Regions from separate parts of the Homo sapiens genome. Here region 1 is linked to region 2. The links come from fine-mapping of genetic effects on gene expression. A gene starts in region 2. The other region holds a variant in brackets. All regions are shown on one strand. Distances are from middle to middle. Region 1 overlaps DNM2 (dynamin 2). Region 2 holds the start of TMED1 (transmembrane p24 trafficking protein 1).

Region 1 (15,697 bases), 95 kb before region 2:
GTAATAATCCTCTTGCCTCTGGCTCCCAAAGTGCTGGGATTACAGGCATTAACCACTGTGCCCGGCCTTTTCTGGCACTATTGAAAAGACCATCCTTTCTCCCTAAAGTTGCTTTTGTCTGGAATTAGTTGGCCATATTTGTGTGGGTCCAACCTGAACTGTCTGTTCTGTGACGTTGATGTATGGCTCTGTCCTTTCTCCAAAACCACATATCTTTCTTCTCTTTTTAGATAGAGATGGGGGCTGGGCACAGTGGCTGACGCCTGTAATCCTAACACTTTGGAGGCAGGTGGATCACTTGAGGTCAGGAGTTTGAAACTGGCCTGGCCAACATGGTGAAACTCCGTCTCTACTAAAAATACAAAAAAATTAGCTGGGCGTGGTGGTGGGTGCCTGTAATCCCAGCTAATTGGGAGACTGAGGCAGGAGAATCACTTGAACACGGGAGGTGGAGGTTGCAGTGAGCCAAGATCGCGCTATTGCACTCCAGCCTGGGCAACAGAGTGAGACTCTGTCTCAAAAAAAAAAAAAAAGAAAAAAAGAAAAAAATAGAGATGGGGTCTCACAATGTTGCCTAGGCTGGTTTCAAACTACTGGGCTGGTGATGCTCCTGCCTCAGCCTTCCACAGTGCTGGCATTATGGGCGTGAGCCACCACGCCCACTCATTTCTATATTGCTGTAGCTTTATAGTAAGACTTGAAATCAGGCCATGTGAGTCCTCTTTTTTCTTGTTTCTCAAAATTGTTTTGTCTAGTCTAGTTCCTTTGCCTCCACATATATATTTTAGAATCAGCTTGTTGATTTCATAGAAAAGATCATTGTGTATTAGTACGTGGAAAGCCACGGTATTAGTTTTTTGTTTGTTTGTTTGTTTGTTTAGACAAAGTCTCTCTCTGGCACCCAGGCTGGTGTGCCAATAGTGTTGGGATTACAGGCGTGAACCACTGTGCCCAGCTGGTACTGGTTTTTATAACTGTGTATTATTCCATCCACTGTCACTACTTCCCCAGGACCAGTACAGTTTCTGCCTCCTCAGTCTTGCACCTTTAACCTTGTCCTCACCCCCAGGCTGTTCTCCCTGCAGTGGACAGAGGGAGCCTGTTAAGAATATCCTTCCTAGCTGGGCGCCGTGGCTTACGCTGTAATCCCAGCACTTTGGGAGGCCGAGGTGGAAGGATCTCTTGAGCCCAGGAGTACGAGACCAGCCTGGGCAACATAACGAGACCCCCATCTCTACAAAACATTTAAAAATTAGCCAGGCATGGCAGCGCATACTTACAGTCCCAGCTACTCAGGAGGCTGAGGTGGGAGGATTGCTTGAACCCAGGAATTTGAGGCTGAAGTGAGCTGTGATCCTGTCAGTGCACTCCAGCCGGGGAGACAGAGGGAGACCCTATATCCTTCCTCTACTTGGAATCCTCCCTGGCCCTCAGTTCCCTCAGGGTAAAAATGAAGTCGTCCCTGAGGCTCCATGATGTTCTCATGCAGGTGAGGCGCTGTCCTACCTCATGGCTTTTTCACATGCTGCTTCCACTGCCTGCACTGCCCTTCCCCCAGATAACCCTGTGGCTCATTTCATCAGCATTCTAAGGCCTCTGCTTAAAAGCCTCCTTCTCAAAAGGCTCTCCCCCTGGCCACTCTGCTCAAACGCCCCACCCTGTTCTCTCTGTCCCCTTCCCCTGCTTAATTTTTCTTGGAACCACTTGTCATTCCTGTCATTGTTCCACCTATGCGTTTGGTTTCTTGTTTTCTTTTTTTGGGGTGGAGTCTTGCTCTGACTCCCAGGCTGGAGTGGAGTGGCGATCTTGGCTCACTGCAACCTCTGCTTCCCGGGTTCAAGCGATTCTCCTGCCTCAGCCTCCCAAGTAGCTGGGATTACAGGCGCACGTCAACATGCCCGTATATTTTTGTATTTTTAGTAGAGACGAGGTTTCACTATGTTGGCCAGGCTGATCTCGAACTGCTGACTTCAGGTGATCTGCCAGCCTTGGCCTCCCAAAGTGCTGTGATTACAGGCATGAGCCACCGCACCCGGCCTATTTGTTTGATTTCTCTTTCTGTCTCCCCCCACTAGAAGGGGAATGCCCCATGGTAGGGCGGTGCCCCTGGCTGTAGCGCAGTCCCTTGCATGGTGCCTGGCATGCGATAGGTAATCGGGGCACCCATCTCCCTCTCGGGATGCACTCATTGATGTACTTGTCAATCACTGAGCAAGACCCACTCAGCAATGTCTGCTGAGCCTGCTCTGTGCCAGGCTCTGACCTGAACTGCCACCCTTCTGGAGTCAAACAGGCCTGGTTGCCACCAAGAGGAGTTAGGCCTGGCAGAGGAGACAAGCATTAGTCTCACAACAGAAGGAAGTAGGCCGGACGTGGTGGCTCATGCTTGTAATCCCAGCACTTTGGAAGGCCGAGGTGGGCAGATCATCTGAGGCTGGGAGGTGGAGGTTGCAGTGAGCCAAGATCACGCCGCTGTACTCCAGCTTGGGTGAAAGAGCGAGACTCCATCTCAAAAAATAAATAAATAAATAAATAAATAAAAAGGAAGTGGAGACTTTCATTGAGATCAGTATCAAAGGGCACGAGGTGGCAGGGCATGGTGGCTCACGCCCATAGACCCAGCACTTTGGGAGGCTGAGGTGGGAGGATTGCTTGAGCCCAGGAGTTTGATACCAGCCTGGGCAATATAGTGAGACCTCATGTCAACAAAAACAGACAAAACAAAAAAAACAGGGGAGGGAGGGCTACAGGAGGGTGGGATGAGGACTGGCCACAGTTGGAGGCCAGGCCCTTCCTGGGGATCCCAGCGGTTGTTACTCTTTAAGAAGGACCTGGCCTGGTGTGGTGGCTCACGCCTGTGATCCCAGCACTTTGGGAGGTTGAGGCGGGTGGATCACTTGAGGTCAGGAGTTGAAGACCATCCTGGCCAACATGGCAAAACCCCATCTCTATGAAAAATACAAAAAAAAGTTAGTTAGCTGGGCGTGGTGGTGGGTGCCTGTAATCCCAGCTACTTGGGAGGCTAAGGCAGGAGAAGTGCCTGAACCCAGGAGGCAGAGGTTGCTGTGAGCTGAGATCGCACCGTTGCACTCCAGCCTGGGCAACAAGAGCAAAACTCCATCGCAAAAAAAAAAAAAAAAGGCTGGGCTCAGTGACTCACGCCTGTAATCCCAGCACTTTGGGAGGCCGAGGTGGGCGGATCACGAGGTCAGGAGATTGAGACCATCCTGGCTAACACGGTGAAACCCCGTCTCTACTAAAAATACAAAAGATTAGCGGGGCGTGGTAGCGGGCGCCTGTACTGTAGTCCCAGCTACTCAGGAGGCTGAGGCAGGAGAATGGCTTGAATCCTGGAGGAGGAGCTTGCAGTGAGCCGAGATCACGCCACTGCACTCCAGCCTGGGCGACAGAGCGAGACTCCGTCTCAAAAATAAATAAATAAATAAAAGAAGGACGTGTTCCCTTGTTCTTCTATGGGGACATGGGGAACTCCTGTACTGTTTTATTTTCCTGAAATATTTTTATTGAAATATAATTCACATACCATAATACCTAATCCTTTTGAAATATACTATTCAGTGGATTTTAGTATATTCACAGTTGTGTAACCAGCACCACTATCTGATTTTGTAGCACTTTCATTTCCCCTAAACCCATACATATGAAGCAGTTCCTCCCTCCCCCAGCACCTGGAAGCCACTAATGTCCTTTCTGTCTGTGAATTTGCCAATTTTGGATATTTCCTATAAATGGAATCTTACAGTATATGGCCTTTTGTGTGTGGCTTTGTTTATTTAGCATCATGTTTTCAAGATTCATCCATGCTGGTTGGGTGCAGTGGCGCACGCCTGTAATCCCAGCATTTGGGAGGCTGAGGCGGGCAGATCACTTGAGGGCAGGAATTGATGAGACCAGCCTGCCCAACATGGTGAAACCCCTTCTCTACTAAAAATACAAAAATTAGCTGGGTGTAGTGGCACATGCCTGTAATTCCAGCTACTCTGGGTGGCTGAGGCACGAGAATCTCTTGAACCTGGGGGGCAAGGTTGCAGTGAGCCGAGATCACTCCACTGCACTCTAGCCTGGGCAACAGAGCAAGACTCTCTCTCTCTCTCAAAAAAAAAAAAAAAAAAAAAAAAAAGAATTCACCAATGAAGCCACCTGGGCCTGGACTTTTCTTTGTGGGACGTTTTTTGAATACTAATTAAATTTCTTGTACATCTATTGAGTTTTTCTGTGTCTTCTTGAGTCAGTTTCAGTAATTTGGGTCTTTCTAGGAATTTGTCCATTTCATCTAGGGTGTATTTAATTTGTTAGAATAGTATTCCCTTATCATCTTTTTTATTTCTGAAAGGTTGGTAGTGATGTCTCCTCTTTATTTCTGATTTTTGTAATTTGAGTCTTATCTCTTTTTCTCTTGGTTAATCTAGCTAAAGGTTTGTCAGTTTGGTTGATCTATTCAAAGAGCAAATTGTGGTGGTGTTAACTTCTCTCTCCATTTTTTTAGTCTCTTTATTTCTTCTCTAATTATTTCCTTCTTTTCTCTTTGGATTTGGTTTACCCTCCTTTTCTGAGGTTCTTGAAGTGGAAGATTATTGAAATCTGAAAGTATTTGAAATCTTTCTCTTTTTTTTGTTTTTTTTTTTTGAGACGGAGTCTCGCTCTGTCGCCCAGGCTGGAGTGCAGTGGCACGATCTTGGCTCACTGCAAGCTCCGCCTCCCAGGTTCACGCCATCCTCGTGCCTCAGCCTCCTGAGTAGCTGGGACTACAGGCACCCACCACCATGCCTGGCTAATTTTTGTATTTTTGGTGGAGACGGGGTTTCACCATGTTGGTGAGGCTGGTCTCAAACTCCTGACCTCAGGTGATCCACCCACCTCGGCCTCTTAAAAGTGTGGGGATTACAGGCGTAAGCCACCGCGCCCGGCCAAAATCTTCCTTCTTTTTAAATACAGTTGCTTACATCTATGAATTTCCCTGTAAACCTGCTTTAGCTGCATCCATAAGTTTTGATATGTTGTGTTTTCATTTTCATTTATCTCAGCATATCTTCTCATTTCTCTTATGATTTCTTCTTTGATACATAGGTTATTTAGCAGTATGTTCATTTCTATATATTTGAGAATTTCTGAAAAACATCTTTCTTGTGTTCATTTCTAACTTCATTTCACTGTGGTTGGAGGAACTACTTTGTATGATTTCAATCTCTTTAAAATTATTGAGTCATGTTTTATGGCTTGGCCTCGAATACGGTGTGTCCTGGAGAATGTTCCATATGCACATGATAAGAATGTGTATTTTACTCTTGGGTGGAGTGTTCTGTACACATCTGTCAGGTCTTATTGGTTTCGTATTTTCTATTTCCTTGTTATCTTTTATTTGGTTGTTCCATCCATTATTATTATTTTTCTTGCCTGATACCAATGCTGATATCCATCCATGATTGAAAGTGGGGTATTGAAGTCTCCAACTTTCTTTCTTTCTTTTTTCTTTTCTTTTTGGAGACACGGTCTTGCTCTGTCTCCCAGGCTGGAAACGTGGTGGCATGATCATAGCTCACTGTAGCTTCTGTCTCCTGGGCTCACATGATCCTCCCACCTCTGCCTCCCGAGTAGCTGGGACCACAGGCGTGTGCCACACCCGACTAATTTTTGTATTTTTTCTAGAGGTAGGGTCTTGCTATATTGACCAGGCTGGCCTTGAACTCTTGGGCTCAAGTGATCCTCTCATCTTGGCCTCCCAAAGTGCTGAGATTACAGGCATGAGCCACTGTGCTCAGCCCCAAATTGGCCAATATTTCTTTCTTTTTTTTTTTTTTTTGAGACAGAGTCTTGCTCTGTCGCCCAGGCTGGAGTGCAGTGGCGCGATCTTGGCTCACTGCAAGCTCCGCCTCCCGGGTTCACGCCATTCTCCTGCCTCAGCCTCCCAAGTAGCTGGGAGTACAGGTGTCCGCCACCATGCCCGGCTAATTTTTTTTGTATTTTTAGTAGAGACGGGGTTTCACCGTGTTAGCCAGGATGGTCTCTATCTCCTGACCTTGTGATCCACCCGCCTCTGCCTCCCAAAGTGCTGGGATTACAGGCGTGAGCCACCACGCCTGGCCAATATTTCTTTTGTTCTGTGCTTTTTCCTTCCTCCCTCCCTTCCTCTTTACCTTCCTCTTTACCTTCCTCTTTCCCTCCCTCCCTTCTTTCCTTCCTTCCTTCCTTTTTGTTCTTGTTCTTTTCTTTTTCCTCTACCCTTCTTTCTTTTCCTTCTTTCTTTTTTTCTTTCTTTGTTTTTGCTTGATTGCAGCATCATGAGAGAGTCCTGTGCTTTTTTATAGCTGCAAGTATTCCTGGGTCGAGCCTACTCCCACTAACACTGATCACTCTCCCCCTTGAATTTTTAGGTTATTTCTAGTTTTTCCCCTCCTGCCAGAGACTTGGGGGTCCGCAGGCTTGTGTGTCTGCTATGCTCAGGGTGGATACCCTGCAAGGGAGTGCCATGTTGCATCAGAAGTGGATTTAGAGTGATGTTGCCAGGCCCACCAGGAAAGGCTGTGCCAAGGCTCTTTGCTGGGGTGCCAAGAAGAAGGGTCTGTGCCTGTTGTGGTGCCAGGCATTGACATCCTTCACTCCCACCCCCGTCACCCTCATGAACTAGTGAACTAGTCCTGTGGAATAGGGCCTTATGCGTGCTAGACCCTGGGTTTGTCCTGCTGACAACCCCATAGTGTAGGTGCTGTTATCCCAATTTCATAGAGAAACTGAGGGCTGGGGAAGTGGCAGCCTTCATTCAGTTCCTGCCGTGAGGCTGTGGCTGAGCTGCCAGGCTGCAGAGTCTTCACCCAATGATCTTGCTCAGTTGTCCCCATGAGGAAGCTGAGCCTGGCCTTCCTGTCTCTGGAGTCCAAGGTTTCCTTTCCTTGTGTGCCCCTGGAAGTGCTGTGTGGTGACCGGGATGGTGCCTGGCAGATGGAGATTAGACGCAGGTTGGATTGGTGCCTCATTGGTCAGGAGGGCTGCTCTTAGCTGTGTGCCAATAGACCGGATGACTTAATCTCTCTATCCTTGGTTTCCCCATCTGCAAAACAGGGTTGGCCAGAGCCCTGTGAAGGTGGAAGAAGGCCCTGTGTGCCTGGAGCTTTGTGCAGTGCCCTGGAGATGCTAGCTTGTTTTTCTTTCTTTTTTTTTTTTTTTTTTGAGACAGAGTCTCCCTCTGTCATGCAGGTTGTGGTGCAGTGGCTCAGTCTCCGCTGACTGCAGCCTCAACCTCCTGGGCTCAAGTGATCCTCCCACCTCAGCCTCTCAAGTAGCTGGGACCACAGGCGTGTGCCACCACGCCCGGCTAATTTTTTGTAGAGGCGAGGTTTCATCATGTTGCCCAGGCTGGTCTTGAACTCCTGAGCTCAGGTGTTCCGCCTGCCATGGCCTCCCAAAATACTAGGATTACAGGTGTGAGCCACCACGCCCGGCCGTGATGCCAGCTTCTTTTGCCGTGCAGCTAGCATTTGCTGAACACCTGCTGTGTGCCAGATAGTGTGCTGGAGGCAGGGCAGTGAACAAGACAGACGAGATCCCTGTCCTGTGGAGCTGATGCTCTAGCTGGGGGCCTGAGGGGTGGGAAGGAAGCACAGGTGCTCGGGTGAGAAAAAACATCATGCGGCCAGGCATGGTGGCTCACACCTGTAATCCCAGATCTTTGGGAGGCTGAGGCAGGCGGATCATCTGAGGTCATGAGTTCGAGACCAGCCTTGCAAAACCCCGTCTCTACTAAAAATACAAAAATTAGCCAGGTGTGGCTGGGTGTGGTGGCTCACACCTGTAATCCCAGCACTTTGGGAGGCGGAGGCAGGTGGATCACAAGGTCAGGAGATCGAGACCATCCTGGCTAATATGGTAAAACTCCGTCTCTACTAAAAATACAAAAAATTAGCCGGGTGTGGTGGCGGGTGCTTGTAGTCCCAGCTACTCAGGAGGCTGAGGCAGGAGGATGGCATGAACCCGGGAGGCGGAGCTTGCAGTGAGCCGAGATTGCGCCACTGCACTCCAGCCTGGGTGACAAAGCGAGACTCTGTCTCAAAAAAAAAAAAAAAAAAAAAAAAAAAATTAGCCGTGTGTGGTGGCGTGC[G/A]CCTGTAGTCCCAGCTACTTGGGAGGCTGAGGCAGCAGAATTGCTTGAACTCGGGAGGCAAGGTTGCAGTGAGCCAAGATCACGCCATTGCACTCCAGCCAGGGCAGCAGAGCGAGACTGTTTCCAGAAAAAAAAAAAAAATACAAAAATTAGCCAGACGTGGTAGCATACGCCCGTAGTCCCAGCTGCTTAGGAGGCTGAGGCAGGAAAATCACTTGAGCCCAGGAGGCGGAGGTTGCAATGAGCCAAGATCCTGCCACTACACTTCGGCTGGGGTGACAGAGCCAGACTCCATCTAAAAAAAAAAAAAATTCTTTAAAAATCAGGCACACAGTGTGATCTGACTTGCAGTTTTCCAAGCCTGTGGGGCAGGGAGCCTGGGGGAGGCTTTGCCCTGAGATGGGAGACTTGGCCTCAGGACATTAGAGCGAAACAGAGGAGGAGGGGATGGGTCTGGATATCCAAGGCAGGATCTGCCGAGAGATACGCTGTGGGGGTGGGACAAAGACCTCAAGAACGGGTCCGGGCTGTTCCTGTCACTTGTGACATTGTGGACTGAGTCTGCCTGGATATTTCCTTATGGGCTGGCTCCCCATCACCCCGGGAGAGTCTCGGGGTGGAGGGAACTAGAACGTGTTTGCCTGGAGGTCACTACCTACTCCCCTGGAAGGAAGGGGCTCCAGGAGGCTGGCTGTGGAATGCAGACTGTGGGTGGTGCCCGGCTGCCTGCCTCTAGTTCACTTGGGCCCTCAGGGTGGTACAGAGCTGGAAATCCATACATGGCTGACCACCCTGTAAGGGCTGCAGACACAGTGAGCGTTCACTTTGCCCTGGCAACTGGAACTGTCTCCTCCAGTCCTCACCACAACCGTTTTACAGAGCAGGACACCTGTTGCAAGATGGGAGAGACTTTGCTAACAAGGTCCCACAGCTGGCACTCACCAGGCTGGCTGGGGTACTCAGGCCACCCCTTGCAGTGGGGAGCAGTTAGGATGACACCGAGGACACCCCTAGGAGGGCGGAGTTGTGAGCTCCAGGACCCCACATTTGAGCAGTTTCCCCGTCACTCTTGAAAATGCTGCTGGGCCGGCCAGTTTCTTTGGGGTTTCTCAGTACTGCTGAAAGTTACAAGGTCAACACTGGCCTGCAATCACAGTTATAAAAAAGTTATAAAAGCCTGACATTCAAATCACGTTGGAGACTATAAAACAGCAAGTTTTTCATTTGCACACCTCACATGACCTCAAGCCTGCTGTCCATACACAGGAAATGGGGATGTGCGGAAAAAAAACCCGAAGTGGAGGACATCATCCCCCACGCATAATCCAGTCCGTGCATCGCACTTGACCTTCGGCACTGCAGCCTGCATTGCTCCCCGGACTAGCTCCCAAGATTGATTTAGCCAGTTCCCTGCCAGTGGACATTTAGGTCATTATCGGTTTTCATTCCACAAAGTACTGCCCTCAGGGAGTCGGCTGTCCTTGCCAAACCACTGCATTAATATGTTTCTGGGTGCTGGGGAAAGGGCGCTTAAGACCCCTGCCCTCAAGGTGTTGATATTCTAGTTGGGACTGTTAGATAAATGAGCAATTAGGCTGGGCACGCTTGAAATCCCAGGGCTTTGGGAGGCTGAGGTGGGAGGATCGCCTAGGCAGCATATCACTACAGAAAAACACAAATAAAAAAAGTTAGCTGGGCGTGGTGGCAAGTGCCTGTAGTCCGAGCTACTCAGGAGGCTGAGGGAGGAGGATCGCTTCAGCCCAGGAGTTTGAGGCTGCAGTCAGCTATGATTGCATCACTGCACTCCAGCCTGGATGACAGAGTGAGATCCTGTCTCTGAAAAAAGAGGTGCAAATAAACCAGAAAAGTACCAACTAGTGGGCAGTGCTGTGTTTAGAAGGAAAACAGGGCAACATGAAGGGGAGGTGGGCATCAGTAGGGGACAGACCTCTCTGAGGAGGTGACATCTGAGTTGAGTCCCTGGTAACCGGAGATAGCCAGGATTGTGGAAATACTTGGAGGAGATGAGATGGTCTTTCGAAGCAGGAGGCCAGCATGTGCAAAGGCCCTGCGACAGCAATGTCTGGCCTCCTTGCTGTTTCTTTTTATTTCATTTTTTGAGACGGAGTCTCACTCTGACCTATGCTGGAGTGCAGTGGCATGATCTTGGCTCACTGCAACCTCTGCCTCCCAGGTTCAAGCGATTCTCGTGCCTCAGCCTCCTGAGCAGCTAGGAGTACAGGCACACGCCACCACACCCCACTAATTTTTCTGTATTTTTAGTAGAGACAAGGTTTCACCATGTTGGCCAGGCTGCTCTCGAACTCTGGACCTCAGGTGATCCACCCACCTCGGCCTTCCAAAGTGCTGGCATTACAGGTGTGAGCTACCACGCCCGGCCTTTTTGCTGTTTCTTGACCACCAATGTGGCTGGAGGCAGGGAGTGAGGGGGTGGTGGGGGAGGAGGGCACGGAGGTGACAGGGCCATGGGGGGCACTTGGGAACTGTCAAACCGTCAAATGTTATGAGCAGAGGAGGGTCATGTTCTTACATTGTATCGAGTTTTCCTTTTTGTTTTTTTGAGATGGAGTTTCACTCTTATTGCCCAGGCAGGAGTGTAATGGTGTGATCTTGGCTGACTGTAACCTCTGCCTCCCAGGTTCAAGCGATTCTCCCACCTCAGCCTCCCGAGTAGCTGAGATTACAGGCATGCACCACACCTGGCTAATTTTGTATTTTTAGTAGAGACGGGGTTTCTCCCTGTTGGTCAGGCTGGTCTCGAACTCCCAACCTCAGGTGATCTACCTGCCTCGGTCTCCCAAAGTGCCGGGATTACAGGTGTGAGCAACCGTGCCGGCTTTTTTTTTGTTTTTTGTTTTTTTTTTTTTTGAGACAGTCTCACTCTGTTGCCCAGGCTGGAGTGCAATGGCATGATCTCACAATCTCAGCTCACTGTGACCTCTGCCTCCTGGGTTCAAGCGGTTTTCCTGCCTCAGCCTCTCGAGTAGCTGGGATTACAGGTGCCCACCACCACGCCTGGCTAATTTTTGTATTTTTAGTAGAGACGGAGTTTCTCCATGTTGGCCAAGCTGGTCTCAAACTCCTGACCTCGGGTGATCTGCCCGCCTCGGCCCCGCAAAGTGCTGAGATTACAGGCATGAGCCACCGCACTCAACCAATTTTTTTTTTTTTTTTAGTAGTAGAGACAGGGTCTCATCATGTTGCCCAGGCTGGTTTCAAACTCCTGGGCTCAAGAGATTGCGTGCCAAGGTGCTGGGATTATAGGCACGAACCACTGTGCTCAGCCTGAGTTTTACTTTGATTCGATGGGGCGAATGTTCTCTTTTGGGTATCATGGTAAGAGTTTCACAAACCCTTCCACCTCCTCTCTGAGGCAGGTGGCATCATTCCCACATAACAGATTGGGAAACTGAGGCACAAAGAGGTTACCTGACCTGCCCATCTTGTCCAGAAAGGAAATACTGGATTCCAGCCAGGGCCTGGAGAGTCCCAGAGCCACGATCACGAATTGCCACAGGTCACCTCCTGCTTTTGCTCCCAGCCTGTTGTGTCCCTTGGATGAGACCAGGGAGCAGGTGATGCCACGGCTTGAGTGCCAAGGGCGGGCCTCGAGCCGGGAGCTGCAGGATTCCTGATCAGGGAGGGGCTGCTGGGCTGGGAATGTTGGGGAGGAGTGAGGCCAGGAGTGGATTGTGGAAGTGAGAAGTCTCCTCATCTGTAAAATGGCAGATTTGGCCCATTGTTCTGCAAGCATTGGTCATCTGCCTCCTGCCTGGGTGTGTGTTGGGTACTGGGGAGAGAGCAGAGAAGGGGCCGATACGGGACCCTGCGCCCATGAGGCTGCCACTCTAATAGGATGTTGAGGTGGGGGCAGGGACAGACTGCAGCTGGGTGAACACATCAGGAACCCGGAAGATGCCAGTTGTGAGTGGCACTGAGCATTGAGCGGGTTGATGTGTGAAAGAAGGGGAGCAGCTTCCTATGGCGGGGGGAGGGAGGGTGCAGTTTGCTGGGAGCTGCCCGCCTGCTCTGTTAATGCTGCAGGAAGAAGGTTCCAGGCTGAGGGAACAGCCTGGGCAAAGGCCCTGGGGCAGGACAGTGTCTGGTGTGTTTCGGGAACATGGAGGAGGCATATGTGGCTGGAGTAAAGCCAGCAAGACAGAGAGTAGGGGGAGGTGAGGACAGGAAGGTGACAGGACAGGTCGTGCAGGGCTTGGGGGGCTGCAGGGAAAAGTCTGGCTTTTATTCCAAGTGAAGCGGGAGCCCAAGGAGGGCCCATAACAAAGGGGTTTACAGTGACATGGTGTGCACAGGCACCTTGTGGCTGCTTTGTGGGAGGCAGATTGTGGGGACCAAGGGCACGACTGCACTGGTGTAGGCAGGTGACAGTGGGACACGCTGACAGCCTTGGACGTGGAGGGAATTGAGCAGAATCAGGCCTGATGTGGAGGTGAAACCAGCAGGACTCGCGGCTGGACAAGGCGGGTGGGTGAGGGCCAGGGGAGCCCCAGGTCTGCAGCCTCGTGAGGGGTTTCTCCCCTCCCTGCCCTTTGGGGTGACCACAGGGATGCAGTGGCACCTACCTGCGGACACTGTGTGGGCCGAGCACTGTAAGGCTTGGGCGTCCTTGCTGGGTGACCAATGGCTATTGTTGGAAGGATGAGGCAGGGACCGAGGTGGGCAGAGGAGACTGGGCATGGGTCCCCACTTCTGCTCCAACAGAGCGACAGAGAAGCCCCTGAGGTGGGTGCGGGTGACTGCGGGTCTGCCTCATTGGTGTCCCACCCACATTCGTGTCCTGGCTCTGCTCCTCCCTCGCTGAGCGTCCTGGGCAAGTCCTGAGACTGAACCTCAGTCCACCTGTCTGAAATGGGACTTTTGGCCCTGGCATCCTTGTGACTTTCAACCCCTCTGGGGTTGTCAGAGGATTTGCCGCTATGTTGCCCGAGATGGGGTTAGAGACAGCCTGTTGGGTGGCCAGCGTTCCTTGTGTGGCTCTTATCAGAGTCCTGAGAGAAGAGGCCAGGGTGGAAATTGGCCCTGGAGTGTGGGCTCCTGCCGAAGCCTCTTCCTGTGGCCAGTGCCATGCTGAAGGCTGGCTGTGGTGTCACGTGAGCCCTCCCAGCCACATTCAGGCTCAAAGAGACTGTGCTGAGCATATGGTGACAAGGAAGGGATCCCAGCCCAGGGTCCTGGCCAGGCCCTGCCAGCACCAGGCTGCACAGGTGAGGGGTGGCTTGCCCTGGGGTGCTGGCTCTGGGCCACACTGCTGACTCACCCTCTGTGGGCTTATCTGTTGATTCTCCCTCCCATGGGAAGGCTCTGGGTTTGAGCCTGCATCGTTCCTGCACGTAGCCGTCCCCACCCTCATAGGGGCTGGAAGTCAAAAGGCGCCTGGTGGAGCCTTGTGGTCTGTTCAAAAAACGGTAAATAAACAGCCTGGGCTTCTGATCTGCTGGACTCAACCTGGCACCTCTCCCATCGCTGCTGGGTGCTGCCTCCCAGCTGCACCCTTCCCTGCCTGTCCCCTACCGCCTTCCTGGAGCGCTTATCCCCTTCCAGGGAGAGGTGGCCCACTTTAGAGCTCTGAAACCTGCTCTGGTGGGGTGAAGTGACTTGAGCCAGGCCAAGCCGGTGGCTGGGCCCTCTGTGGCAGACTGGAAGTGTCCTCCCATTTCATGGATGGCCAAGTCAGTGCCCAGAGAGGGGTAGAGACCTGTCCAGGGCCACACAGCCCAGGAGGGGCGGAGCTCGACTTTGAACCCAGGCTGCCTGGCTCCACAGTCTGGATTCTTCTTACCCATTCAACAAATACTTAATGAGCACACACTGTCTGGCAGGCACTGTTCTAGGTGCTGAGGATCTAGCAGTGACCAGGCCAGGTGCAGAAGTCTTGGCGTGTCACAGGACTAGACCTTCATCAGAGGCCGTTTTGCTGGGAGTGGGAAGGGGTGTGTATTTGGGAGGGAGGGGCGCAAGCCATCACACCTGCCCATGGCCAGGTAGGCAGGGCCTATGGGAGGGTTTCCTGGCAGAGGGAACACCCCCTGCAAAGGCCTGAAGGCCAGCAGTGCCAGAGAGAACTCAGAGGAGGCAGGTGCAGGGGGTGGGGCTGGGGAACCCGGTCAGCACTGGGACTAGGACTGGACAGGACGGGCTAGGACCAGTCACTTGGTTTCTGCAAGAGAGAAGCTTGGAGGCAGGATCTTCATTTTAGAAAGGTCACTGGGGAAGGTGGGAGGTTGGGCCAGGACCCTGGGGCCTGGCCTGGGCCCATGGATAGGAGGCCAGGTACTGAAATGATGCAATAGTACTAGGCTAGGTGCAGTGGCTCACACCTGTAATCCCGGTGCTTTGGGAGGCCGATGCGGGAAGATTGCATGAGGCCAGAAGTTTGAGACCAGCCTGGGCAACATAGCGAGACCCTGTCTCTGCAAAAAATAAAAAAATTAGCCGGGCATGGTGGTGTGTGCCTGCAGTCCCAGTTACTTGGGAGGCTGAGGTGGGAAGTTCACTAGGGTCCGGGAGTTCAAGGCTGCAGTGAGGTATGATTGTGCCACTGCACTCCAGACTGGGCAATATAGGAAGATGCCATCTCTAAAAAAAAAAAATTAGCCAAGCATGGTGACATATACCTGTAGTCATAGCTACTCAGGAGGCCGAGACTGAGGTTTGCCTGTACCCTGGAGTTTGAGGCTGCAGTAAGCTGTGATTGTGCTGCTGATGCAGCCTGGGCACAGAGTGAGATCCTGCCTCTAAAATAAATAAGGCCGGGCGCGGTGGCTCATGCCTGTAATCCCAGCACTTTGGGCTGCTGAGGCAGGTGGATCACCTGAGGCCAGGAGTTCGAGACCAGCCTGGCCAAAATGGCAAAACCCCATCTCTACTAAAAATACAAAGAAATTAGCCGGGTGTGGTGCTGGGCGCCTGTAATCCCAGCTACTTGGGGGGCTGAGGCAGGAGTAAGCTGAGATTGCGCCACTACACTCCAGCCTGGGTGACAAAGCAAGACTCCATCTCAAAAAAAAAAAAAGTTAATAAACTACTTAATTGTGCATCTCCTGTGTGCCAGCCCTACTCTATGCTTTGGGGATGGAATGTTGGAGGATCCCACCTTGGGGAGCTGTGTGTGAGCTCCCCACACAGCTCAGATGGGGGTATGGGGTCTGTATGTGAGCCAGAACAAAATGCAGCTAAGTGACATTTAGCATGTGTTAGTTCCACAGAGAAAAATGAGGCATGGGGGGTGGAGGTGGGAGAGGTGTGAATGGGGGTGAGAGAAGTCTCTGAGGAAATGTCATTCGAGCGGAATCACTCTGAGCTTGGCAAGGTTACCCTGTCTTACTGACGGGAAACCTAGACCAGAGAGGCCAGGAAGCCCGCCCAGGATCACACAGCACAGAGGTGGCCAAGCAGGGACTGGAATGCAGGGCAGCCTGGGTGCACAGAGGGCACTGTAGCAGCAGCAAAGGGAGAGGAGAGGAGTAGGTAGATTTCAGTACTCTCAGAATGCGGATGGGATCAACGAGGAGGAAGTAGATGACGGAGGCTGGAAAGTCACTT
Region 2 (14,240 bases):
ACTTCCCATTAGCAGGAGCTCCCCAGCGGCAAGCCTGGCCCAGTGGGCTCGGTAGTGCCCAGCTGGCAGGCCTGAGGTGTACATAGTCCTTCCCGGCCATATTAACCACACAGCCTGAGCCTGGCCCAGCCTCGGCTGCCAGAGGTGCCTTTGCTAGGCCCGGAGCCGTTGGCCCGGGCCGGCCTTGCCCTATTCCTCTCCTCCTCCTCCTCCTGGGTCCCCCAGGGTGGCTGGGCTTGGGCTATGTGGGTGGTGGTGGCGGGGGGTCTTGGGGGCCTCTCAGCTCCCGCCCATGCCTCCCTGATGGGTGGGCCCAGGGCGGCCTCTCTCTGAGGAGACCTCACCCACTCCTCGCTCAGTTTGACCACTGTAAGTGCCTGCACTCTGTATTCTATTAATAAACTAAAATAAAGGGAAGACGCTGCTGGTGGCTGCTGTGTGGGCCTCTTGTGTTAGTGTTCAGGCTGGGGACATGGGTGCCACCTCCATCAGGCCTCCCATAAGGATGCCCAAGTCCCTGCACTCATAAGTGCCTCCCATCTCCCTGAGGGCTCTGCTTTCGGGGGTGTCACCTTTCAGAGGAAGCCACTCGATACAGGGGAGAGCTTTTACTTTCCTTAGCATGTGAGGAGTGGGAGCAGATATTCTCTGACCCCCTGCACACCCCCACGTGCACAGGCCTGGCTGCTGCCTGGTGAAGCGGGGACCCCAGCGCTCCACCCCCTTCCTACCCTCAGGCCCTGCTTCTCTCACCTCGTGGGGAAGCCCAAGCCTCGTGGCCCAACTGGGGCTCAGTTAAACTTTGCTTTCTGATTTTTCTCTTGTGCCAGGCGACCACCTCCATCGGCTCCCGCACGACCTTTCTTCTGAGCTTCGTGGGAGGCCCCTCCCACCTGTCTGGCTGCCCCCTCGGGGGCCGGTCTGTCCTGGCTGGTGTCCCTGAGCCCCAATCAGCAGGCTCTTGTGATTTTCTGACCATAATTTATTGACTCCAATGCCCAGGCCACACCACCCTTTGTTATAGGAGGCTTCTGCCTAGACTTTGGCCGGGCCATCCCTCATGCCTGTGTGGGGCCCCTGCAGGAGAGGGGCCGGGGCAGGTGGTCTTCCAGGCCCCCTTCCTGGCATTCTGTTACCAGACCTCAACCTGGCTTGGAGGGCCCAGGTTTCCTTGTTAGGCCCTGCCCCGCACCAGGCAACGCTAACACAGGATGGGAGGCTTAGGCTAAGGCACATTTACAGTAGAGGGGCCAGGAAATCCGAGGCTCACGTTCCAACGCTGCAGTGCCCACCATGTGAGATTTCCAGGACCGTCGGTGCAGCCACTGAGCCGTCCCTTCTACAAGCCAGAGGTGTTCCCTGCCCGCTGAGGACGGAAGGAGACTCATGGGGCCAGACCGCAGGCCCTGACTGCACACTCCCGTTTTGGCAGGAAACTAAAATTGGGGAGGGACCCCCAAGTCTCATATGCACACACCCTGCTGCCCCTCCTTTGTCCCGTTCTTCCTTCCATGGCAGGGGCTACGTGGGCACCGGGCGCTTGTCCTGGAAGAAGCGCTTGAGCGTGCAGACCTGCAGCACAGCCACCAGCAGCAGCACCGCCACGTTGACAGCTGACCAGAAGTTGACCCGCTCCAAGTTGCCCTCTTGCAGGTTGCGGTCACGTGCCTCGAAGGCCCGCAGTAGCGTGAGCATCTGGATGCTGCGCTCCAGCCGGGTCCGCATGGTCTCAATGGACTCCTACAGGGCAGCGGGAGGGGAAGGGTCAGGCCTCCCTCCACCCATCAGGGAGCAGAGACCAAAAAAACCGGGGGATACGGAGGGAGGCTGTATTAACCCTGGGAGGTACAGCTGCAAACACAGACTTGTTCAGGCTAAGTTCAAATCCTCACCCTGCCACTCACTGGCTGTGACCATGAGCAACTTAATTAACCTATCTGAGCCTGTTTCCTCTTCTATAAGCTTCCAAATTGCTGTGAACATTTAATGCCTAAATAAATGTACAAGGATGAGCATGGTGGCTCATGCCTATAATCCTAGCACTTTGGAAGGCTGAGGTGGGAGGATCGCTTGAGCCCAGGAGTTTGAGACCAGCCTGGGCTACATGGCAAAACCCCATCTCTACAAAAAATTAGCCAGGGGTGGTGATGTGCAACTGCAATCCCAGCTACTCAGGAGGCTGAAGCAAGATTACACCTGTAATCCAAACACAGGAGGATCACTTAAACCCAGGAGTTCAAGACCACCCTAGCCAACATGGTGAAACCTCGTCTCTACAGAAAACAAAAAATTAGGCATGGTGGTGCACACCCGTAGTCCCACTGAGGTGGCAGGATTGCTTGAGCCCAGGAGTTTGAGGCTGCAATGGGCTATGATCACACCACTGCACTCCAGCCTGAGTGACACAGCAAGACCTTGCCTCGCCGTAGCTCACACCTGTAATCCCAGAGCTTTGGGAAGCCAAGGCAGACAGATCCCCTGAGGTCAGGAGTTCGAGACCAGCCTGGCCAACATGGTGAAACCCTGTCTCTACTAAAAATACAAAAATTAGTCAGTCAGGCGTGGTGGCACAGCTATTCAGGAGGCTGAGGCAGGAGAATTGGCTGAACCTGGGAGGCAGAGGTTGCAGTGAGCTGAGATCGTGCCACTGCAATCCAGCCTGGGTGACCAAGAGAGATCTGTTAGAAAATAAATAAATAAGTAGTTAATTAAAATACTAATAAATGTACAGAACATATTTGCTTGTGGTTAAGAGCATAGTTGCTGAAACCAGCATGGGTTCAATACCAACTCTGCTAGTTGGTCTGTGTGGCCGTGAGTTGCTCAGCCATCTTGTATCTCACTTTCTCCACCTGTAAAATGGGGATGACTTGAGCACAGGGTCTGCTTCACAAGGTGGTTTGGAGATTTACGGTATGAGTTATTTATGATATGAGTTCCTTAAACCTTTACACCAGGGTTTATACCTAGAAATGAACTACTTTTTTTTTTTTTTTTTTTTTTGAGACGGAGTTTTGCTCTTATTGCCCAGGCTGGAGTGCAATGGTGCGATCTCGGCTCACTGCAACCTCTGCCTCCCAGGTTCAACTTCCACCTCCTGGGTTCAAGTCATTCTCTGGCCTCAGCCTCCTGAGTAGCTGGGATTACAGACGCCCGCCACCACACCCGGCTAATTTTTGTATTTTTAGTAGAGACGGGGTTTCACCATGTTGGCCAGGCTGGTCTCAAAACTCCTGACCTCAGGTGATCCACCCGCCTCAGCCTCCCAAAGTGCTGGGATTACAGGCGTGAGCCACCGTGCCCGGCCTGAAATGAACTACTTATTTTAAGAGCTGCTACTCTTACTATAATTCAGTTGGAGGGCACAACTACGGAGGGGAGGCTGGGTCAGCCCAAGGGGGGCACCCCAGGTGAATCCTAGAGATCTGGAAGGAGTGGCCCCAGCGCAGCCTGGACACACCTTGATGTCCTCCATTTTAACATCCAGCATCTCCTCGGGCTCCACAGCCTCTGCCCATCCTTCGACCTCCTCGTCATCCTGGAGGCTGTCAAAGATCAGTTCAAAGAACACCAGCTTCTCGGAGATGGTGCTGAAGGAGTTGTCAAAGCACAGCTTGTAGTCCCCGGCCTCCGTTGGCTCCACCCTGGGCAGACAGACACACAGACATGACCCAGGGTGGCCAGCCAGCCGACTCAGCGGGGCAGTCAGGGCGGTAACCTGAGGCCGCCTGGGAAGGGCAGGGCTGTAACTGAACCCAGGCAGGCATCAAGACTGAACTCACGTGTGTACCCCATCAGCCTTGCGGGACTCGCTGACCAACAGCACGCCCTGAGGGCTCTCCAGCGTGAAGTCCACGTCCAGTCCAGCACCTCCGATCACCTGGGGGGCAGGTAAGAGCGGGTGGAGGGCTAGCGGTAGGCCAAGGGCGCCTGCCGAAGAGGGCTACGGCTGAACCAACACTGATCAATACAGACCACCAAGGGCTTACCTGAACGGCGGCACACCCACACCCGCCCCAACCTGTCCCAGTGGCTGCGCCCCTTGCCTCCACCCTCATTGATATGACAGCTTGGGGTCCATACTTTCAGCTGACCACGCACCTACCAAAAGTACTTAATGGACGTTTACCTGACCACGCCCCTGGTTGGCTCCGCCTCCGAAAGAGGATAGGCCCAGCCTTTTTCCTTAGTCTAACCCCCGAGAAAGGCCTGTGTGGGCAACGCCCCCGCAGTTGACCTATCAGCACTATCGCCACGCCCACCAGCCAGAGTCCTGTCCTCTCAGAGGCTCCCTATACTTATCGATGGCCCCGCCCCCTCTGGATCTCTTACTCTAGCCCCGCCTGCTTCATTACTCCCTCCCCTTCCGCTCCCACACACCGTCCCCGCCCCATCTGTCCATCTCTTTCTAGCTCCGCCCCCGCGCTCCCAAGCACGGATTCCTCCCCCTTCCTCCTAAAGCGCGCCTCGCCTCGACCGCTTGGCCACGCCCCCTCTCCCTGACTCTGCTGGCCGCCCAGCCCGCGACCCTCTACCTGGTATTCGGTCTCGAGGCTTGCGTTGGCCGGCGCGGACTGGTAGAAACACTGCTTCCTCCCCGCCGGCAACAGGAACGTGAACTCACCGTCCTGGATTGGCGGGGGCCCCGCCCCTCCCACCTCCACTGGTGGCATTAGTAGCCACAAGGCCAGGGCTAGGGCCGCGCCGGCCGCCATCATCCGGGTCACCCTCTGGTCTGCAAAGGGGTCGCGGCTCCTTTAAGCGCTAGCCCTGCCCCGGTGCTACTCGGCGGAGCTCATTGGCAGTGGCTTCTGTATGTTGTCCGTAACCAGAGGTGCCAGGAGTGAAGGACCCCCCCACTAGAGGGCAGGCGGCCCGAATGAATGCCTGATGTGCCCAGAAACACTCAACCGTCTGGGAATATTTTTCTCAAAGGCTTCGGCTCTCTTCTCGGCCGCTGGTGGAGGAAAATTACAAAAATAAGTGCCATGATGGCGCATCTTTTGTAGGCAGTAGCTAAGACAACTAAAGTTACAGGCGGCAGGGTCCTTTTTAGTCACCTCCACGTGGTTTTCCCAGAGTGCGCCGCGCGTGACAACCTTTGGCGGGACCGACGTGGTGGAGTGGACCCAAAAATAGCGTCTAGGCGTGGCCCTGTACGCGACCCGTAGGGCTCGCCTATAAAAGGGCTGGGGCGGGGCGGAGATACCTGTGGCGTCGTGTTTTGCTTGCTCTGTGAGCGTGGTCCAGGTTCGACGCCTTTTGCGCCTTAGAGGCATCAGCGTATCAGTTTCCTCGTAAGTCGGGAGTGATGGAACGACCACCCTGTAGTGCGGCTGTGAGAATTGAGATGAGGCTTGGTTCATATTGAGTGCTCAGCTTTCCTGGCTTATAGACAGTGGAGGGGCGTGGCCCCACCATGCACCCCAAGGGTCTCAGACTCAAGGGCCAGCAGGTAAATAGAGCCATTACAGTAGCCTCGGGTCAGAAAAACGACAGCCCAGGTAGGAAGAGATAAGGACAGTGTGGGACTGGGAGCCACGTTGCCTGGTTCAGCTCCTGCCCCACCCATTACTTGAGGCATTCCCTCTGTTGAGCCTCAGTTTCCTCTTCTGCAAAATGGGGATAATAGGCCTACGCTACTGGGCTGTCTTTAGGATACGTGAAATGCTTGTTGAGTGCTTGCTTCCGCAGTGCGTGGGACATCACAGGCCCTCAGTAAATAATAATCTGTTATTTGGTTCCCGTCTAAACATAAACTGTGTACAGGGAGATGTTTAGTCTTCAAAGATAAACCCGGAAAAGGTTGGCAGGTGATGACAAAGATCCCTCAAATACAGCTGGCTGTTGTCAGCACTTTCCTGCATTTGGAGAATTTGGGGAAGTAGCTCTTTGTAATATCAGTTTGGTATTCCTTTTCACTCCAACTTTTTCTATCATTTACACTCACTGCTTGGACAATTTGAAGTAACAGTGGAGAACGGGTGACTCCTTTTCTTTTTTTTCTTTTTTTTTTTAATTTTTTTTTCCTTTTTTTTTTTTTTTTTTTTTGAGACAGAGTCTCCCTCTGTTGCCCAGGCTAGAGTGCAGTGGCGCGATCTCGACTCACTGCAACCTCCGTCTCCTGGGGTTCCAGCGATCCTCCTGCCTCAGCCTTCCGAGTAGCTGAGACTACAGGCACGTGCCACCACACCTGGCTAATTTTTTGTATTTTTAGTAGAGAGGGGGTTTCACCATGTTAGCCAGGATGGTCTCGATATCCTGACCTTCTGTTCCATCCACCTCGGCCTCCCAAAGTGCTGGGATTGTAGGCGTGAGCCACTGCACCCGGCCGGATTTTTTTTAGGACAGGGTCTTGCTCTGTTGCCCAGGCTGGGGTGCAGTGACGCCATCATGGCTCACTGCAATCTCTACCTCCTGGGCTCAAGTGATTCTCCCACCTCAGCCTCCTGAGTAGCTGGGACTACAGGTGTACACCTCCATGCCTAACTAATTTTTTGTAGACATGAGGTTTCCCTGTGTTGCCCAGGCTGGTTTCAAACTCCTGGGCTCAAGCCATCTGCCTGCTCCCTCACCCTCCCAAAGTGTTGGGATTACTAAAATTGATTTTTTTAAATACAGTAAAATTCACATTGCATAAAATTAACAATTTTAAGGCCGGGTGTGGTGGCTTACACCTGTAATCCCAACACTTTTGGAGGCCAAGGCAGGCGGATCATGAGGTCAGGAGATCGAGACTATCCTGGCTAACACAGTGAAACCCCGTCTCTACCAAAAATACAAAAAATTAGCCAGGCGTGGTGGCGGGTGCCTGTAGTCCCAGCTACTCTGGAGGCTGAGGCAGGAGAATGGTGTGAACCTGGGAAGCGGAGCTTGCAGTGAGCCCAGATGATGCCACTGCACTCCAGCCTGGGCGACAGAGCAGGACTCCGTGTCAAAAAGAAAATAAAAATAACCATTTTAAAATTAACAATTCAGTGGCATTTAGTACATTCCAGTGTTGTGCAGTGACTTCTATGTAGTTCCAAAACATTTTCATCGGCTCAGTAAAGATCCCTGTACCCATTAAGCAGTGATTCTGAAACGGCCTCGTTGTCTTGAGTAACACCCGGGGTCGTTGTCTCACAGCCACGAAGAACAAGGACCAGGACACACAAAAGAATGAGGTTGAGAACGAACGTTTAATAGGCAACGGAGAGTATAGCTCTCTGCTACAGAGAGGAGTCCCAGAAAAATGGGTTGCTGGTCCATAGCAAAATACAGGGGGGTTTATAGATGAGCTGGTGAGGAGACTTAGCCTGATTTACATAGGGGATGAAAAACTGGTTAGAACAGGTGTGCCATTTGCATAGGGTGTGAATTTCTGGTATCTGCTAATCTTTTATTATGCAGCCGGGGTCTCTACCTGAGCTGTGCCACATCGCCCATTTCTTTTTCTTTTTTTTTCTTTTTTTTTTTTGAGACAGAGTCTTGCCCTGTCACCCAGGCTGGAGTGCAGTGGCGTGACCTAGGCTCTCCGCAACCTCCGCCTCCCAGGTTCAAGGGATTCTCCCGCCTCAGTAGCTGGGATTACAGGTGCCTGCCACCACGCCCAACTAATTTTTTGTATTTTTAGTAGAGACAGGATTTCACCATGTTGTCCAGGCTGATCTTGAACTCCTGACCTCATGATCCGCCCACCTTGGCCTCCCAAAGTGCTGGGATTACTGGTGTGAGCCACCTTGACCAGCCCCATGTTGCCCATTTCTTAGTTCCTGTACACGTGGTAGCAAAAAAGGGGAGATGGAGCCTCCGTGTTGGATATGCCTGGCTCCCAGGTAGCCATTTTCTGTTGGTGCAGCTGCCAGCATTCCCACGTGCAAGCTTCCAGCTTCCTTATCTATGTTTGCAGCTTGAGTTTTCAGGCTGCTATTTATTAGAAAAGAAATGATATCAGGGGCTACTTTCTGTTAGAAAAGAAATTCTGCTGAGGACTCTTTGCCCTCACTGCCTGCCTAAATACTTTCTATCTCCTGTATCAACTCCTCATTACACTTTGCCCCCCGCCTCTCAACTAGCTATGTGCTTTTTGCCTCTAGGGATTTACCTACTCTGGATATTTCATATGAATAGAAGCAGACAATGTGTCACCATTTGTATTGAACTTCTTTTACTTAGCATGTTTCTAGGGTTAGACCATGTATCAATATTTAATTCCTTTTTATGGCTGAGTAGTATTCTATTGTATGTACATACCACAATCAATTTTTCTTTTGTTCTTTTTTTTTTTTTTTTTGAGACAGTCTCGCTGTGTTACTCAAGCTGGAGTGCAGTGGTGTGATCACAGCTCACCGCACCCTCCACTTCCCGAACTCATGTGATCCACCTCAGCCTCCCAAGTAGCTGGGACTACAGGTGCACGCCACCACACCTGGCTAATTATTTTTCTGTGGAGACAAGAGGTCTCCCTGTGTTACCCAGACTGGTCTTTAACTCCTGGGCTTAAGTGATTCTCCTGCCTCAGTGCCCAAAGCGCTGAGATTACAGTTGTGAGTCACTGTGCCTGGCCCCACAATTTCTTTAGCCATTCATTATTGAGGGACAGTAGAGTTATTTCAACCTTTTAGCTATTGTGAGTACAGCTGCTGTTAACATGTATGTATGTGTATTTTATTACTTGCGTTCAGTTCTTTGGGGTATAGATCTCGTGGTGGAATTGCTGGATCCTATGGTATTTCTATGTTTAACTTTTTGAGGAACAACCAAAGTGTTTTCCACAGTGGCTGTACTGTTTTCCATTCCCACCAACCACGTATGAGGGTTCCAGTTTCTCTACATCCTCACCAACACTTGTTACTTTGCATTTTGTTTTTTGTTTTGTTTTGTTTTTGAGACAGTCTCACTCCTTCACTTTGGCTGGAGTGCAGTAACTGCAATCTCCATCTCCCAAGTTCAAGTAATTCTCCTGCCTCAGCCTCCCAAGTAGCTGGGATTACAGGCACATGCCAACACACCCAGCTAATTTTTGTAATTATAATAAAGACAGATTTTTGTTTTTGTTTTTGTTTTTGTTTTGTTTTGTTTTGAGACGGAGTCTTGCTGTATTGCCAGGCTGGAGTACAGTGGTACCATCTTGGCTCACTTCAACCTCTGCCTCCCAGGTTCAAGTGATTCTTCTGCCTCAGCCTCCTGAGTAGGTGGGACTATGGGCGCATGCCACCATGCCCAGCTAATTTTTGTATTTTTAGTAGAGACGTGGTTTCACCATGTTGGCCAGGATGGTCTCAATCTCTTGACCTCGTGATCTGCCTGCCTCAGCCTCCCAAAGTTCTGGGATTACAGGCGTAAGCCACCGCGCCCAGCCTAGAGACAGGTTTTTGCCATGTTGACCAAGCTGGTCTCGAACTCCTGACCTCAAGTGATCTGCCCACCTCGGCCTCCTAAAGTGCTGGGATTACAGGCGTGGGCCACTGTGACCGGCCCTGTTTTGTATTTTTTGTTTGTTTGTTTGTTTGTTTATTATAGCCAACCTAGTGTATGTGCATTTCCCAAATGATTAGTAAGGTTGAGCATCTTCTTATCTGCTTCTCGGTGGTGTGTATATCTTCTTTGGAAAGGTATCCATTCATGTCTTTTGCCCATTTAAAAATTGGGTTGTTCATCTTTTTGTTGTAGGAGGTTTTTTAAACACATATTATAGAGAGGAAAAGATAGAAAAGTGAAACAAAAAAACTTCTCTAGCTGGACCCTCATGCTTGTAATCCCAGCACTTTGGAAGGCTGAAGCCAGAGGATCTCTTGAGCCAAGGAGTTTGAGACCAGCCTTGGCAACGTAGAGAGACTCTCCCGCTCCTACCACCATCTTTACAAAATAATAAAATATTAGCCAGTTGTGGTGGCATGCACCTATAGTCCTAGCTACTCAGGAGGCAGAGGTGGGAGGCTCGCTTGAGCCCAGGAGTTCAAGGCTGCAGTGAGCCATGATTGGCCCACTACACTCCAGCCTGGGTGACAGTGAGACCCTGTCTCATAAACACACACAAAAAAATACCCTCTCGCGGCCGGGCACAGTGGCTCACGCCTGTAATCCCAGCACTTTGGGAGGCCGAGGTGGGTAGATCACAAGGTCAGGAGATCGAGACCATGTCCCTTGAGTAAACAAAACCAAAAACTCTCCTCCCTAATTATTCACCAAATATTTACTGAGCCTCTGACAGTGAATAAAACAGACACTGTCAAAGCCAGGTGGAGTGGCTCACGCCTGTAATCCCAGCATTTTGGGCGGCCAAGTTGGGAGGATCTCTTGAGCCCAGGAGTTCCCGACTAGCCTGGGCAGCATAGTGAGATCCCATCTCCACAAAAACATTTTTTAAAAAATTAGCTGGGCATGGGAACAATCCCATTTCCTGAGGGAATGGGAGGATCTGTCTACTTTTCTTATCCTGATTCAAATGGAATGCCAGTGTGGCAACTCCTAGGATTTGTCACGAATGGGAAGCCAAGTGCCATCTTCAAAATTTCAGGTCTTAAATCTGGAGAAGGAAGCCAACATCCTTTTGGAGCCATGAATATTGTCCGAACTCCATCTGTTGCTCAGATTGGAATTTCAGTGGAATTATTGGACAGTATGGCTCAGCAGACTCCCGTAGGTAATGCTGCTGTATCCTCAGTTGACTCATTCACTCAGGCCCAGATGACACCAAGCCCATCTGAAATGTTCATTCCGGCAAATGTGGTTCTGAAATGGTATGAAAACTTTCAGTGATGACTACCACAGAACCATCTCTTGGAAAACATAATTTGAATAAAATACTTTTTTTTTTTTTTGAGACGGAGTCTCACTCTGTCACCCAGGCTGGAGTGCAGTGGCGCGACCTTGGCTCACTGCAAGCTCCGCCTCCCGGGTTCACACCATTCTCCTGCCTCAGCCTCCCGAGTAGCTGGGACTACAGGTGCCCGCCACCATGCCTGGCTAATTTTTTGTATTTTTAGTAGAGATGGGTTTTCACCGTGTTAGTCAGGATGGTCTTGTTCTCCTGACCTCGTGATCCGTCGGCCTTGGCCTCCCAAAGTGCTGGGATTACAGGCGTGAGCCACTGCGCCTGGCTAAAATAATTTTTAATGGAAAAAAAAAAAGTAGCTGGGCATGGTGGCACACGCCTGTAGTCCCAGCAACACAGGAACCTGACTCAGGAGGATCGCTTGAGCCCAGGAGGTTGAGGCTGCAGTGAGCCATGATTGCACTACTGCACTCCAACCTGTGCAACAGAGAGAGACCCTGTCTCAAAAAAAAAAACCAGAATTCCAGGTTGTAGATTCCTTCACCATATTGACTCAGGATTTTTCTTAGCCACTTTGCCAGCCGGGGACATCTATGGCCGGCAGTGCCCCCTACCACCCGCAAGGGCATGACACTGGAGGCACCCTGCCCACTCAGCCCACCTGTGTTATAGCTTGTATCTGCATTCGGCAGTTCTCAAGCTCTTGTCCTGCATCCAAGAAGAATGAGGAAATGCTGACAATTGAAGGGTGAAGATGGGAGGAGAATTTTTTTGAGCGACAGAACAGCTCTCAGCAAAGAGGAGATGTGGGGGTGTGGTTTATCTTTCAGTGTGGCTGGATCCGGGGCTTTTTATGGACTCAGAATGGGGAATGTGTGCTGATTGGATTGTGAGTGTGCAAAAAAGGTTAAAGCGAAGACACCACTCAAAGGTGGGTCCAACAGTATAGAAAACCAATTAGGAAAGGGTAGGTATATGCAAACTAGGTGGAGGGTGGGGATCAATCTGAGGAAAGCACGCCAAATAGAAGACAGATTCTCTGTCCAGTCCCTGGATTTGACTTGTAGCTTTGCTTTCAGGCTTTAAACTGTCTTTGGCTTGGAGGTGGGGTTTCACCAGGGACCTGCCCCTATCTGCCTAGGCATTTGTCTGCCTCTTGCCACTATCAATATCAATCAGAAGGCTTCCCTGACCCTGCTGTAGCTGGGTTGAGCCCCCTCGGCCACTGCCTCTGTTACTGCACTTCACCACTGGACTCTCCTTGTCTTCTTGTCTGACTCTTGAACGCTGAGCTCCTTGAGGACAGGAGCCATTTTCATTCATCCTAATGTCTCTGGCACAATTCTGGGAACATGATGATGCTCAGTACTCAGTTGGTGGAAAAAATAAGCCAGGAATCTCTCTTAACTCCATCTCCTGTACACCCAGTATACAGCCACAGAAGTGGCTTGAATGGATGTTTTTTTTCGCTGTCAGGTCAGATGATTGAGAAATATTTATGATGTGCCAAGCATGGTGGGAGACACGGGACACTGCAGGTAACAACACAGACCCCATCCTTGTGCTCCGAGAGGAGGAGGAAAGCTGTGTTAAGATATCATGAAGGCTGGGCATGGCGGCTCATGCCTATAATTCCAACACTTCGGGAGGTGGGCGGATCATTCGAGGTCAGGAGTTCAAAACCAGATTGGCCAACATGGTGAAATCCTGTCTCTACTAAAAATCCAAAAATTAGCCAGCCGTAGTGGTGCATGCCTGTAATCCCAGCTACTCAGGAGGCTGAGGCAGGAGAATCACTTAAACCCGGAAGATGGAGGTTGCAGTGCAGCCGAGATTGCGCCACTGCACTCCAGCCGGGGCGACAAAGTGAGACCATGTCTAAAAAAAAAAAAGGCTGGACACGGTGGCTCACGCCTGTAATCCCAGCACTTTGGGAGGCTGAGGTGGGTAGATTACGAGGTCAGGAGTTCAAGACCAGCCTGACCAACATGGTGAAACCCTGTCTCTACTAAAAATACAAAAATTAGCCAGGCATGGTGGCACACGTGTAATCCCCGCTACTCAGGAAGCTGAGGCAGGAGAATCGCTTGAACCCAGGAGGTGGAGTTTGCAGTGAGATGAGATCGCACCACTTCACTCCAGCCTGGGTAACAGAGTGAGACTCCGTCTCAAAAAAAAAAAAAAAAAAATTTAAAAAGCTAGGCGTGGTGGCTCACGCCTGTAACCCCAGCACTTTGGGAGGCCAAGGTGGGAGGATTGCTTGAGCTCAGGAGTTCATGACCAGCCTGAGCAACATAGCAAGACCCTGTCTCTGTTTAAAAAAAAAAAAGAAAGGCCGGGTGCAGTGGCTCACGCCTGTAATCCCAGCACTTTGGGAGGCTGAGGCGGGCAGATCACAAGGTCAGGTGATCAAGACCATCCTGGCTAACACAGTGAAATCCCGTCTCTACTAAAAAATACAAAAAATTAGCCGGGCGTGGTGGCGGTTGCCTGTAGTCCCAGCTACTCGGGAGACTGAGGCAGGAGAATGGCGTGAACCCAGGAGGTGGAGCTTGCAGTGAGCCGAGATTGCGCCACTGCACTCCAGCCTGGGCGACAGAGCGAGATTCCATCTCAAAAAAAAAAAAAAAAAATGAAGGAGGCTGGGCGTGGTGGTGGCTTACGCCTGTAATCCCAGCACTTTGGGAGCCCAAGGTGGGAGGATTACTTGAGCCCAGGAGTTTGAGACCAGCTAGGCAATGTAGTGAGACCCTTTCTCTACAAAAAAAAAAAAAAAATTTAGCCAGGTGCCGTGCATGCCTGTGGTCCCAGCTACTTGGAAGGCTGAGGTGGGAGGATCACTTGAGCCTGAGAGATGGAGACTGCAGTGAGCCATGATTATACCACTGCACTCCAGCAGCCTGGGCAAGAAAGCAAGACCTTGTCTCCAAAAAAAAAAAAAGGCATGAGGATGAATTCAATAAATTCAAGAATATTCTGTGTACTACCTTGACCAAATTGTATTAATATTTAGAGAATATTATACCAAACAACTACACCGTGTACTTGAATTTCTAGCGTACGTACAATGTGGATCGAGATACCCTGCACCATTCTAAAAAGTCAGTACATTTCAAAGTATTGAAATTATATGACCACAAAGGAGTTAAAAATCATTAACAGTAAGCTGCCCCCCAAAAAGCCCAAGTACTTGGGCATTAAGCAACACACATATTCTCTGGATCATAGAAAAGAAAGCACAATGGAAATAAGCAAATATTTCTAACTTAATGACGCTCAATATATGAAAATGTGTGGCATGCAGTTAAAACAGTTCTTGGAGGGAAAGGTGTACCTTTAAATGCTTGTATTAGAAGATAAAGGTGGGCCGGGTGCGGTGGCTCACGCCTGTAATCCCAGCACTTTGGGAGGCCGAGGCAGGTGGATCATGAGGTCAGGAGATCGAGACCATCCTGGCTAACATGGTGAAACCCCATCTCCA

What was found. PIP is the estimated chance that this variant, and not a neighbour inherited with it, causes the effect.
Region 1: its variant is fine-mapped to the expression of TMED1 in whole blood (GTEx, PIP 0.95).

What each region holds. Positions count from the first base shown.
Region 1 is chr19:10,735,747-10,751,443 of GRCh38, forward strand. The region is part of intron 1 of DNM2 (dynamin 2); the gene reads left to right. Among named protein-coding and RNA genes, the nearest start is that of MIR638, 25 kb to the left of the region's middle. RefSeq lists a silencer at 3,195-3,264 and enhancers at 12,855-13,669, 14,805-15,426. The variant G/A (reference allele first, on the strand shown) is at 8,114.
Region 2 is chr19:10,831,474-10,845,713 of GRCh38, forward strand. TMED1 (transmembrane p24 trafficking protein 1) reads right to left here and starts at 4,739. Exons shown (of 4, transcript NM_006858.4): 1 at 4,536-4,739; 2 at 3,783-3,880; 3 at 3,461-3,644; 4 at 594-1,740. The coding sequence starts at 4,718. The coding sequence ends at 1,522. It overlaps DNM2 (dynamin 2), which reads left to right. Exons shown (of 21, transcript NM_001005361.3): 21 at 1-430. It also overlaps a transcript of C19orf38 not described here and the pseudogene HIKESHIP2. RefSeq lists enhancers at 3,237-3,874, 4,512-5,148, 4,914-5,013.